Regions from separate parts of the Homo sapiens genome. Here regions 1 and 3 are each linked to region 2. The links come from fine-mapping of genetic effects on gene expression. A gene starts in region 2. Each other region holds a variant in brackets. All regions are shown on one strand. Distances are between the middles of the regions.

Region 1 (4,154 bases), 33 kb before region 2:
TCACCCCCTAATACCATCACATTGAGCATTAAAACTTAACATATGAATTTTGGGGTGACACAAACATTTAGACCATAGCACTGGAGTATTAAAATTCATAGACACAAAAAATAAAATGGTTGCCAGAGGCTGGGGAAAGGGAGGGATGGGGAGTTATTGTTTAATGGGTTCAGACTTTCAGTTTGGGAAGATGAACAAAGTCCTGGTAACAGGAATTGATGGTAACAGTGGTTGCACAATAATGAGTGTACTTAATGCCACTCAACTGTATACTTAAACATTGATAAAATAGTAAATTTTACGTTATTTACATTTTCGCAGATTTTTAAAATTAAAATTAAAAAATAAGTAATGGGCAATACATTTCTGAAAAAGAAGAGCATTAAAAAGGGCTTAGTTCCACACGCCTGTAATCCCAGCTACTCAGGAGGCAGAGGCAGGAGAATCACTTGAACCCAGGAGGCGGAGGTTACAGTGAGCTGAGATCACACCACTGCACTCCAGCCTGGGCGACAGAGTGAGACTCCGTCTCATAAAAAAATTTAAAAAAAAAAGTTGGTGGGGATGGTGGCGGGCTTAGTTTAATCAATTAATTAAGACAATGTGGTACTAGCACAATATTAGACAAACAGCTGGAAGAAATGAACTAGAATGTCCAGAAATTGATCAAATATAATGAGAATTTAGTTGCTTCAAGTCAGTAGAGAATGACTACTTTAGCAAATGGTGTTGGGACAATAATTATCCCTCCAGGAAATAATGAAATTGGATACACACTTTCCACCTTATAACAATAAAAATTCCAGACTGATCAGACTCAAATGTAAATAAATCATAAAGAAGCTATAAGAAATCATGTGAGAAAAACTGTTATAATCTTGAAATCAGAAAAGCCTTTCTAAGCGTGCTTCTAAACTGAAAAGCCATAAAAGAAAGCACTGATTAATTTTACTAGAAATTAATTTTTTAAATACATGAAAAAAACCCAACAAAGTTAAAAACTGGAGAAAGCTATTGCAACATACAAATAAATGCTTAATTTTCCTTATATAGTAAAGATTCCTCCAAATCAATATTAAAGAAAAAAAATGGAAAACAGAGAAACATCAAAGGAGACATTTTATAGAAAAGGACATACAAGTGACTCTTAGTCATATGGATACACAAACTTTCTCACAAGAAAAGAAATATGTATAAAGATACCCCAAAATATGAATTTTTACATGTAAGTTTGACAAGGATCAGAAAGTTTAATAACACATTCTTGGCAAAAGCATAGAGAAACAGGCAGTTTTATACATTGCTGATTGGTGTATAAATGGGTTTAAAATCTGTGGAGGGTAATTTGGCAATATTTATAAAAATTTCCAAAGTATGTGCATTTTGAGGCAGTACTCCCACATCTAGAAACTTACACTACAGATGATCTCACATAACATGCACTCCATCCTCAAAGTGTTTAGGTTTTGCCCCTCAGGTTATACCCATTGCCTTCAAGAAGTTTTGTTTGTTGGCTCTTTCTAAGATGTTCATAGTGGTGTGCTCTCTTTACTTTCTCCAGTAAGTACCTTTGCTTAAATGCTGTTGTGTTTTAGGACTCCAGTCTTGGTCTATATCTTTCTCTTGATTACTCTTTTTTTTTTTTTTTTTGAGACGGAGTCTCGCTCTGCCGCCCAGGCTGGAGTGCAGTGGGGTGATCTCCGCTCACTGCAAGCTCCACCTCCTGGGTTCACGCCATTCTCCCGCCTCTGCCTCCCCAGTAGCTGGGACTACAGGCACCCGCCACCACGCCTGGCTAATTTTGTTTTTGTATTTTTAGTAGAGACGGAGTTTCACTGTGTTAGCCAAGATGGTCTCGATCTCCTGACCTCACGATCCACCCTCCTCGGCCTCCCAAAGTGCTGGGATTACAGGCGTGAGCCACCGCACCCGGCCT[T/C]GATTACTCTTTTAAGCAATCTCATTCCACTCTCTGGGCCTTAACTACCATCAGTAGGTTAATCACCTCCAAATCTTTAATACTGATACCTATCTTGAGGCTTTTAAACCTGTGTGTAACTCAAGCCCTTCAAACCCTGAATATCTAAGAGAAAGTTTACCCCACTTTCCATCCTCCAAACACATTCTTCCTCTCATATTTCCAAAATCAATTAATGACTCTACTATTCACCAAGTTACCCAAGGCAAAAATATGGAAGTCATCTTTAGTAATTTATTCTTCTTTACTTTTCACTCACAATCAAATGGTGCCAGTTTTCCCTTGTAAACATTTCTCAAATCTGGCCCGTCCCCTGTAACCCTGCTACTGCTGCTTTAGTTCAGGCCCATCTTTTTTGGCCTGGCATATTGCAGCAGCTAAACCACTTCTCCTGCTGTGTATAGCCTTGCTCTCATCAAGGTCACCAAAGCCTTGGTAGTCTATCTGAAACCCAGATTTCAATATGGGAACACCCTGCTTAAAATCCATCAGTGAATCCCCACTTCCTTCAGCCTGAAGCCTAGACTATGTATCATGACATAAGGTCTTCATAATCCATTCCCCTTTCCTTATCCTCACTTTATTTCTTGTTATTCCATACCTTGCACTTTGTGTTCTGGTGGTGTAGAATTTCTGGTAGTTTCTTCCTCAGATCACATTATTTTTTCCCTCTAACCTCTCTTACACTCTTACATTTCTTCTTGGCTAAGCCTTATTTATCTCTCAAGACAGAAGTCGTTAATCATATCCCCCAAAAAGCCTGCTCTGAACTTCCTGGTCGGAGTAAGTATGCAGTCCTACTGTGTACAGTTACATATGCATACACTAAAGTGTCTGGCTGATGGGACAAGCAGGGGCAGCAAACTCTCTGGCAGAAGGGTATTTGTCTTTTTTTGAGAAATAGCTCTGCAGATCTTTTGCCCATTTTAAAGTAAATTATTTGTTTTCTTGCTATTGAGCTGAGTTTCTCATGCATTCTGGTTATTACTCCTTTGTTGGATAGATACCGAGCAATATTTCCTCCCATTCTGTAGGTTGTCTTTTCTCTTTGTGGATTATTTCCTTTCCTGTGTAGAAGATTTTAGCTTGATATAATAACATTTGTCTATTTGTGCTTTTGTTGCCTGTGCTTTTGAGGTCTTATCCAAAATGTCTTTGCCCAGACCAATGTCCTGAAGCGTTTCCCAAAGTTTTCTTCTCATAGTCTCAATCCTAGACTTAAGTATTTAATCCATTTTTATTTTATTTGTGTATATGGTGAGAGGGCTCAAGCTTCATTCTTCTGCTTATGGTTTGTAGTTTTCTCAGTATCATTTATTGAAGAGACTGCCCTTTCCCCAATGTACGTTCTTGGTGCCTTTTCCAAAAATGAGTTGGCTGTAAATGTGTGGATTTATTTCTTGATTCTCTCTTCTGTTCCATGGGTCTATGTATATGTTTTTATGTGGGTGCCATGTTGTTTTGGTTACTATGGCTTTGTAGTGTATATATTTACTTTGTATATACACATACACATGTATATATACACGTGTGTACATACACACACACTTATCTCTGAAATAATTGTTTTAATTTTTAATTTTTTTATCGTTGCCCAAGTAGTAAACTTAGCACCTGATAGGTAGTTTTTCAACCCTTTCCCTCTTCCTCCCTCCCCACACTTGGAATCCTTCGTGTTTATTGTTTCCATCTATGTGTCCATGTGTACGGAATGTTTAGCTCCCACTTATAAGTCAGAACATGCAGTATTTGGCTTTGGCTTGGGTTGATTTCATGTCTTTGCTATTGTGAATAGTGCTGTGATAAATATATGAGTGCAGGTGTCTTTTTGGTAGAATGACTTATTTTCCTGTGGGTATATACCTAGTAATGGAATTGCTGGATCAAATGGTATTTCAATTTCCAGTTCTTTGAGAAATCTCCAAACTGCTTTCCACAGAGGCTAAACTAATTTGCTTTCCCACCAACAGTGCATAAGCATTCCCTTTTCTCTGCAACCTCACCAACATCTGTTATTTTTTGACTTTTTTATAATAGCCATTCTGGCTAGTATAAGATAGTATCTCACTGTAGTTTTGATTTGCACCTCTCTGATTATAGTATATTTTGAACTCAGGTAGTGTGATATCTCCTACTTTATTTTTTAAGTTCAGGATTTTTTTGGTTATTCAGGATCATT
Region 2 (4,000 bases):
CGTTGATTGCTGTAAACAAAATAATAAAGGTCAATAGAAAAATTGAAGTTTACCCAAACTTTCCAGATTCTGCAGCCAGACTGCCTGGTTTCAATTTAGGTTCTGCCACTTACTTGCCTCAATTCCTTATCTATAGACTTGAAATAATAATAGTACCAAAATCATGTGATTGCTGTGAGAATTAAGTTAGTATTTTAAAGTGTTTAGAACCATGCTAGGCACTCTGTAAGTGCTTGCTAAATAAAATACTATAATTTTATCTCTTTCCTGACTCTGATGGCAGTTACTTAGGTCTACAAAACGGCTCCATAAATCTGATGTATAATTCAAATTGGCATTGAATTTACACGTCTATATCCAGTTAACCTGCTGCCTTGAGCATGGTGCAAGTGAAGAAAATATTATTTTACTTCATTGTATGGTTGTAGCTGTCAACACTTCAAAAATGCATTTTCTCTTAAGGGAAAGTGGACATTAGGGTATAAATGATTTATTGCTACTTGGTTATGTTATGTTTATACAATGAAGGAGAGCACAGTTTTGCCTTCAAAGCCCCTAACACCTTTTTTCAATAGCTTTATTGAGGTATAATTCACATACTGTACAATTCACCCTGTCATCAATAAACAATACTAGTGTTTATTGAATGGCTATTACGTCCCAGGCAATAAACACAAATTGTTTCATTTAATCTTCATAAAAATCCCTTAAGGTAGGTATTATTATACTCAATTTTATGATTCAATTAAAGGGCAAGAACTTTGCAGCTAAAGGTTGAAGTGAGGTTTGAACTTACATCCATGTAGCTCCAATATATGTTTTCCATATTCTGCAGCTTCCCTTCAGAAAATTACTTTGTTCTCTTTCAGAGAGTGACTGGAAAAAGGGGGAAAATGTGACTTTTAGAGGGTAGCCGTGGTTAGAGAAACTCTTAATCTTTTAACCTGTCAGGAGAAAAGCCAGAAATAGCAGTCACTGAAAGTTGTTTTAAAACTCTCAATTCAAGGTTGGCATGATAATGCAAAATAGTATTATTACGCAGAAATAAGCAATCATAATCATAATACTGATATACACAAATCATAATGCCAATATACACTACTTTCACTTGGATTCAGCACTTCCTACTAGCATAACTACACCTACCTTTATCGCATTCTCACCAAATGAGTTAGGGTTTAAAATGGGCAAACGAGAAATGATGTGGGGATTCCGGCCCATCTTTTAGACTTTTCACATCAATATGGTATGTTAAAATCACACCCCTGGACATCATGCTCGGGAATACTTAAGTAATTTTGCCACAATTCATTTACTAAACAAATATTTAGGTAATTTTTACATGTCCATCAGTACTGTGCTAACCACCAGGTGTACAAAGGCTAAAACAAAAGATGAACCCAGTTCCAGCTCTTAAAGAGTTTACATTTTAGTTCAGGCTTTCAGAAGGAGAGGCAGTGAGTGTGCTATACTGTATAGCATGTGGGCTCTTGAACCAGCCTCTCCACTCACCTCTCCACCTGCTGTGTGACCTTGGCATTTGATTTTTAAGCGACTCGATTTTCTATTTTGTAACATAATCGTTGACTTCAAATTAAAGACATATCTAGTTTCATTTCAGGTGTACGGCACCATACGAAGATGGGGCTAAGAAAATGTTACTATCCTGTATAAACAAGAGGGTTTCTCGCACGTTTTCTTCCTTTAGTATCTGGCATTATTCAATACTGTCCATATTCTACTCCCTGTTCACCGATGAACTGGGACATGTTTTTCACTGCAGCTTAGTCGTCTGGGTGTGCCTGGGGAGGCGTCACAAAGAGCCTATAAAGGGTCCCCACCTACAACGGGAGTAAGAGCGCTGGAAGGAACCCAGGAAGGGCATGGAGACCAAGCGTTCGGTTTCGGAGTGTTTTTTGTGTGTGCCCATATTCACCGAGCTTGGGTTCTCCCACTCGTAACGAAAAGCCCAGTCACTGAGCTGCTACATTTTCTGCCATATCTTAGCCGTCCCCACGCCCCCACACCACCGCCCCACCCTACCTCACCCTCAAGCGTGAGTGAATGCGCAAATAAGGGTTTTCAAGGCGTCAGTGGGAAAGAGGGAGGGGAAGGCAACGCTGAGGACGGGAGGACAGGGCGGTGGCATCCCTCTAGCGAGAGAGAGCCAGAGCCCTCGGCGGCGAGGAAAGCTAAAACCCGGCAGTCCCGGGCCAGAGGAGGCCAAGGCAAGATGCTGGACGGGCGGGGACCGATGGGGGGCAGCAGACCATGGCCGCGCACCCAGTGCGCCCCCGGGGCCTCCTCTTGTCCCGAGGAGCACCCCCGCTCCCGGTGTCTTTTGGTTTCGACCGGCCGACTGGGAGGGGCCGTGGGACGCCATTCCCATAATGCTCTGGGGCGTGCCGCCGCCGTCGCTGCCACCTCCCCTACCGCTAGTGGAAGAAGATGGCGGAAGGCGGAGCGGCGGATCTGGACACCCAGCGGTCTGACATCGCGACGCTGCTCAAAACCTCGCTCCGGAAAGGGGACACCTGGTAAGAGAAAGGGGTTGAGATGCCCGCGGTTGCCCGAGGATAGTGGAGAAGTGGGCGGGAGCCGCGAGCTGGTTCTTTCGCTAGTGACAGGTGCGGGCAGGTCCGGCGGCGGCCGCCGGGGCAGCGGGATTTTGGCCGCTTCTGAAATGTTGGGGCAAAGGTTGGACTCTAGATGAGGGTCAGGGTTCTTGGCTTGCCAGGGCATGCTGAAAGGTATCCGGGGAGCGGCGGCGGCGGCGGTTCTGACTCGTGCGGTTCTCTTCGTCCTCCTTCCTTCCGTAGTGCCGCTCCCACCTCAGGCCTTCCCGAATGATAGGTTATAGTGGTTTGGTTTGAGTCTTATATACGCCGTTTTGACAGGTCCCGGTGCCGCGGCTTATCACGATCTCACCGGCTTTACTTCTCTGTTCATTTCCTTTCCTAGAATTGTCGGCGTCCAAGTTCCCTTTTATTCTGATTCTTGGTCTTCCGGGAGGCAGGCTGCAGGATGTTTGCGGTCTGTACTACACAGGTGGCATGTCAGGGCTCCACATAAGAGAAAGAAACCCTAGTTTCCAGTTCCTTGTCAAAGGAGGGAGAGGAGTAGGGAACCTTGGGCTTATGAGAGACCACGTGGTCTTGTGCTTTAGTGGTGGCTTGATAGAAGCCGGCAGCGTTTCTGTTAGACGTGCAGCCCTTCCCTTCTGTTTGAAAGATAATGTAGGCCTGCAAAAAGTAGATAAGTCCACTTGAGGCTTAACTAACTGCTAATATTCAAACTTGTAAAATACCAAAGGTTATACATTTAAAATACTGAAGGATGTATGTGGACATTTTCACACTTGTCGACCATATCAAGTGGCATCTACAATAACTTAAATATGTGAATATGTAACATAATTTAAAATTCCTTATTTTTTGGGAAGCATAATGTGCCTCTTCATTATAATAAAACATATTTTCACTTTCCACTGTTACCATAACAGTAGTATATAATTCATAGAGTGTTTCAGTATGGCATAGTGAAAGGAACAGTAAGATTTAGACCTGAGTTATGTCACAGTTTCACCACTCAACTTGCAGTATGGCTTTGAGGAGAGTTAATTTAAATCATTGCACCTCATTATCTTCATGCTGTAAAATGGACAGTAATTTTATTATAAGGATTTTATCTTGATTCGTTTTAATATCTTAAGAATTTCATATTTATGAGATATCAAATTTTAGTTATCCTCTTATCTCTGCTCTTTACTCCTGACAAAAGGCTGTGATATTGGGATCATTTTCAGTTAAGCTAATAGGTGGCAGACTTAGGACCTTAATTTAACCTTGATCTAAGTCTTAGTCTCTTTTTTCTTTTTTGGTAGGCTATATACTATGTTTGTATGATAGAAATCCCTAAGGATGTAAATACATACTTGTTTCATTATATCAAAAAAATAGAATCTTCAAGTGACTTAATAATAGTTATTGTTGGCCTGGCA
Region 3 (4,154 bases), 56 kb before region 2:
TGTTCATCAGGGACATTGGCCTGAACTTTGTTGTTGTTGTTGCTGTTGCTGTATTGCTGCAAGGTTCTGGTATCAGGATGATGCTGGCCTCAAAAGATGAGTTGGGAGGGGTCTCTCCTTTTCAATTGTCTGGAATAGTTTCAGAAGAAATGGTACCAGTGCCTCTTCGTACCTCTGGTAGAATTCAGCTGCAAATCTGTCTGGTCCTAGGCTTTTTTTGGTTGGTAGGCTATTTATTATTGCCTCAATTTCATAACCTTTTATTGGTCTATTTAGGGATTCAAATTCTTTCAGATTCAGTCTTCAGAGGTTGTATGTGTCCAGGAATTTATTTATTTCTTCCAGATTTTCTAGTTTATTTGCATAGATGTGTTTATAGTATTCTCTGACGGCTGTTTGTATTTCTGTGGGGTCAATGATGATATCCCCTTTATGATTTTTTATTGTGTCTATTTTATTCTTCTCTCTTTTCTCCTTTATGAGTTTAGCTAACAGTCTATTTTATTAATTTTTTTCAAAAAACAAGCTCCTGGATTAGCTGATTTTTTAAGGGTTTTTCATATCCCTATCTACTTCATTTCTACTGTGATCTTGGTTATTTCTTGTCTTCTGCTAGCTTTGGGGTTTGTTTGCCCTTGGTTTTCTAGTTCTATTAATTGTGATGTTAGATTTGAGATCTTTCTAGTTTTTTTTTTTTCTTTTTGAGACAGAGTCTCGCTCTGTGGCCCAGGCTGGAGTGCAATGATACGATCTTGGCTCACTGCAACTTCTGCCTCCCAGTTCAAGTGATTCTCTCGCCTCAGCCTCCCTAGTAGCTGGGCACCCACCACCATGCCCAGCTAATTTTTGTATTTTTAGTAGAGGTGGACAGACTGGTCTCAAACTCCTGACCTCAGATGATCCACCTGCTTTGGCCTCCCAAAGTGCTGGGATTACAGGCGTGAGCCACTGTGCCCGGTCCTTTCTAGCTTTTTGATGTGGCATTTAGTGTTATAAATTTCCCTCTTAATACTGCTTTAACTGCATCCCAGAGATCCTGGTACTTTGTCTCTTTGTTCTGATTGGTTTCTAAGAACTTCTTGATTTCTGCCTTAATTTCATTATTTACCCAGGAGTCATTCACGAGCAAGTTGTTCAATTTACATGTAGCTGTGTGGTTCTTTTTTTTTTTTTTTTTTTTTTTTTTTAGACAGTCTTGCTCTGTCACCCAGGCTAGAGTGCAGTGGTGCAATCGCAGCTCACTGCAACCTCCACCCCCTGGCTCAAGTAATTCTCATACCTCAGCCTCCTTTGTAGCTGGGACTAAAGGCACATGCCAACATGCCCAGCTAATTTTTGTATTTCTAGTAGAGACACGGTTTCATCATGTTGACCAGGCTCGTCTTGAACTCCTGACCTCAAGTGATTCACCCACCTCAGCCTCCCAAAGTGCTGAGATTACAGGCATGAGCCACCACACCCATCTTACATGTAGTTATGTGGTTCTGAGGGGGTTTCTTAAGTCTTGAGCTCTAATTTGATTGTGCTGTGGTCTGAGAGACTGTTTGTTATGATTTTGGTTCTTTTGCATTTGCTGAGGAGTGTTTTACTTCCAATTATGTGATTAAGTTTAGAGTAAG[C/T]GCCATGTGGCGCCAAGAATAACGTATATTCTGTTGTTTTTGGGTGGAGAGTTCTGTAGATATTTATCAGGTCCACTTGATCCAGAGCTGAGTTCAAGTCCTGAATATCCTTGTTAATTTTCTGTCTCGATCATCTGTCTAATATTGACAGTGGGGTGTTAAAGTCTCCCACTATTATTGTGTGGGCATCTAAGTCTCTATGTAGGTCTCTAAGAATTTGTTTTATGAATCTGGGTCCTCCTGTATTGGGTGCCTATATATTTAGGACAGTTAGCTCTTCTTGTTGAATTTAACTCTTTACCATTATGTAATGCCCTTGTCTTTTTTTAATCTTCATTGGTTTAAAGTCTGTTTTGTCAGAAACTAGGATTGCAACCCCTGCTTTTTTTGGCTTTCCATTTGCTTGGGAAATTCTCCTCCATCCCTTTATTTTGAGCCTATGTGTGTCTTCGCCCATGAGCTCAGTCTCTTGAATACAACATACCAATGGGTCTTGACTCTTTACCCAGCTTGCCATTCTGTGTTTTTTAATTGGGGCATTTAGCCCATTTACGTTTAAGGTTAATGCTGTTTTATGTGAATTTGATACTGTCATCATGATGCTAGCTGGCTATTTTGCAGACTTGTTGATGTAGTTGCCTCATAGTGTCTTTGGTCTTTGTACTTCAGTGTGGTTTTGTAGTGGCTGGTAATGGTTTTTCTTTTCCACATTTAGTGCTTCCTTCAGGAGCTCTTGCAAGGCAGGCCTGGTGGTGGCAAATTCCCTCAGCATTTGCTTGCCTGGAAAGGATCTTATTTCTCCTTTGCTCATGAAGCTTAGTTTGGCCAGATATGAAATTCTGGGTTGGAAATTCTTTTTTTTTTAAGAATGTTGAATATTGGCCCCCAATCTCTTCTGGCTTGTTGGGTTTCTCAGGAGAAGTCCACAGTGAGTCTGACGAACTTGCCTTTGTAGGTGACCTGGCCTTTCTCTCTGGCTGCCCTTAACATTTTTTCCTTCATTTCGACCTTGGAGAATCTGATGATTATGTGTCTTGGGGTTGATCTCCTCATGGAGTATCTTACTGGTGTTCTCTGGATTTCGTGAATTTGAATGTTGGCCTGTCTTGCTAAGTTGGGAATGTTCTCCTGGATGATAACCCAAAGTATGTTTTCCAATCCCCTTGTCTCTTTCAGGTAGTGCAATCAGTTGTAGGTTCAGTCTTTTTACATAAGCCCATAGTTCTCGGAGGTTTTGTTCATTACTTTTTATTCTTTTTTTCTCTAATATTGTCTGCCTGTGTTATTTCCACAAGATAGTCTTTAAGCTCTGAAATTTTTTCGTCTGCTTGGTCTAGTTGGCTATTGATACTTGTGGTTGCAATGTGAAGTTCTTGTGCTGTGTTTTTCAGCTCCATCAGGTCATTTATGTTCCTCTCTAACCAGAGAATAACCAGTTATTCTGTCATGTTTTATCATGGTTCTCAGATTCTTTACATTGGGTTAGAACATGCTCCTTTAGCTCAGTGAAGTTCATTATTACCCACTTTCTGAAGCCTACTTCTGTCAATTCATTCATCTCAGCTTCCACCCAGTTCTATGCCCTTGCTGGGGAGGTGCTATGATCATTTGGAGGAGAAGAGGTATTCTGGCTTTTTGAGTCTTCAGCATGTTTTCATTGATTCTTTCTCATCTTCATGAGTTTATTTAGCTTCAACTTTGAGACTGCTCACCTTTGGATGGGTTTTTATGGGGACATTTTGTTGATGCTGTGGTTGTTGTTGTTTTCTGTTTGTTTTTCTTTTAACAGTCAGGCCCCTTTTCCATGGGCTGCTGCAGTTTGCTGGGGGTCTACTCAAGACCCCTTCACCTGGGTCCCTCCTGCACCTGTAGGTATCACCAGTGGAGGCTGCACAATAGCAAAGATGGCTGCCTGCTCCTTCCTCTGGAAGTTCTGTCCCAGAGGGGCACTGATATAATGCCAGTGGGAATGCTCCTGTGTAAGGTGTCTGGTGACCACTCTTGGGGGGGTCTCACCCAGTCAAGAGGCACAGGATCAGGAACCCACTTAATAAAGCACTCTGGCTGCCCTTTGGCAGAGGGGGTGCACTGCACAGGGGGAAATCTCACTCATCCAGACTGCCTGGATTCCTCAGAGCCAACAGGGAGAAAGACTAAGTCTGCTGACCCAGAGAGACTTTGGCCACTCCTCCCCTCAGCAGTTCCATCCCAGTGATATCAGAGTTCTGTTTGTAAACCCCTGGCTGGAATTGCTGAAATTCCCCAGGGAGGCCCCACCCAGTGAGGAGGGATGGGTCAGGGTCCAGCCTAAAGAGGGAGTCTGGCCATGATCTGCCACAGCCACTGTGCTGCACTGTGGGGAATTCCTCCTGGGTCCAAACCGCCCAGTTTCCCTGGCATCAGCAGGGGAAACACAGCAGACTGGAGTGGCCATAATGACTGCTGCCCTTCCAGGAAGCCACAGTGACAATGGTTGCCCCTCCCCCTGCAAACTCAGTAGTCTTAGGCAGTCTTCAGCCAAGTGGCCACCAAGAA

What was found. PIP is the estimated chance that this variant, and not a neighbour inherited with it, causes the effect.
Region 1: its variant is the best candidate, but not a certain one, in a credible set for the expression of USP15 in whole blood (TOPMed, PIP 0.68).
Region 3: its variant is the best candidate, but not a certain one, in a credible set for the expression of USP15 in whole blood (INTERVAL, PIP 0.65).

What each region holds. Positions count from the first base shown.
Region 1 is chr12:62,224,562-62,228,715 of GRCh38, forward strand. It overlaps a transcript of TAFA2 not described here. Among named protein-coding and RNA genes, the nearest start is that of MIR6125, 34 kb to the right of the region's middle. The variant T/C (reference allele first, on the strand shown) is at 1,937.
Region 2 is chr12:62,257,967-62,261,966 of GRCh38, forward strand. It overlaps USP15 (ubiquitin specific peptidase 15), which reads left to right and starts at 2,438. Exons shown (of 22, transcript NM_001252078.2): 1 at 2,438-2,537. The coding sequence starts at 2,449. It overlaps MIR6125 (microRNA 6125), which reads left to right and starts at 2,393; the gene lies at 2,393-2,488. It also overlaps a transcript of TAFA2 not described here. RefSeq lists enhancers at 1,694-1,763, 2,314-2,673, 2,894-2,943, 3,667-4,000 and silencers at 2,024-2,083, 2,164-2,273.
Region 3 is chr12:62,201,662-62,205,815 of GRCh38, forward strand. It overlaps a transcript of TAFA2 not described here. Among named protein-coding and RNA genes, the nearest start is that of TAFA2, 11 kb to the left of the region's middle. The variant C/T (reference allele first, on the strand shown) is at 1,620.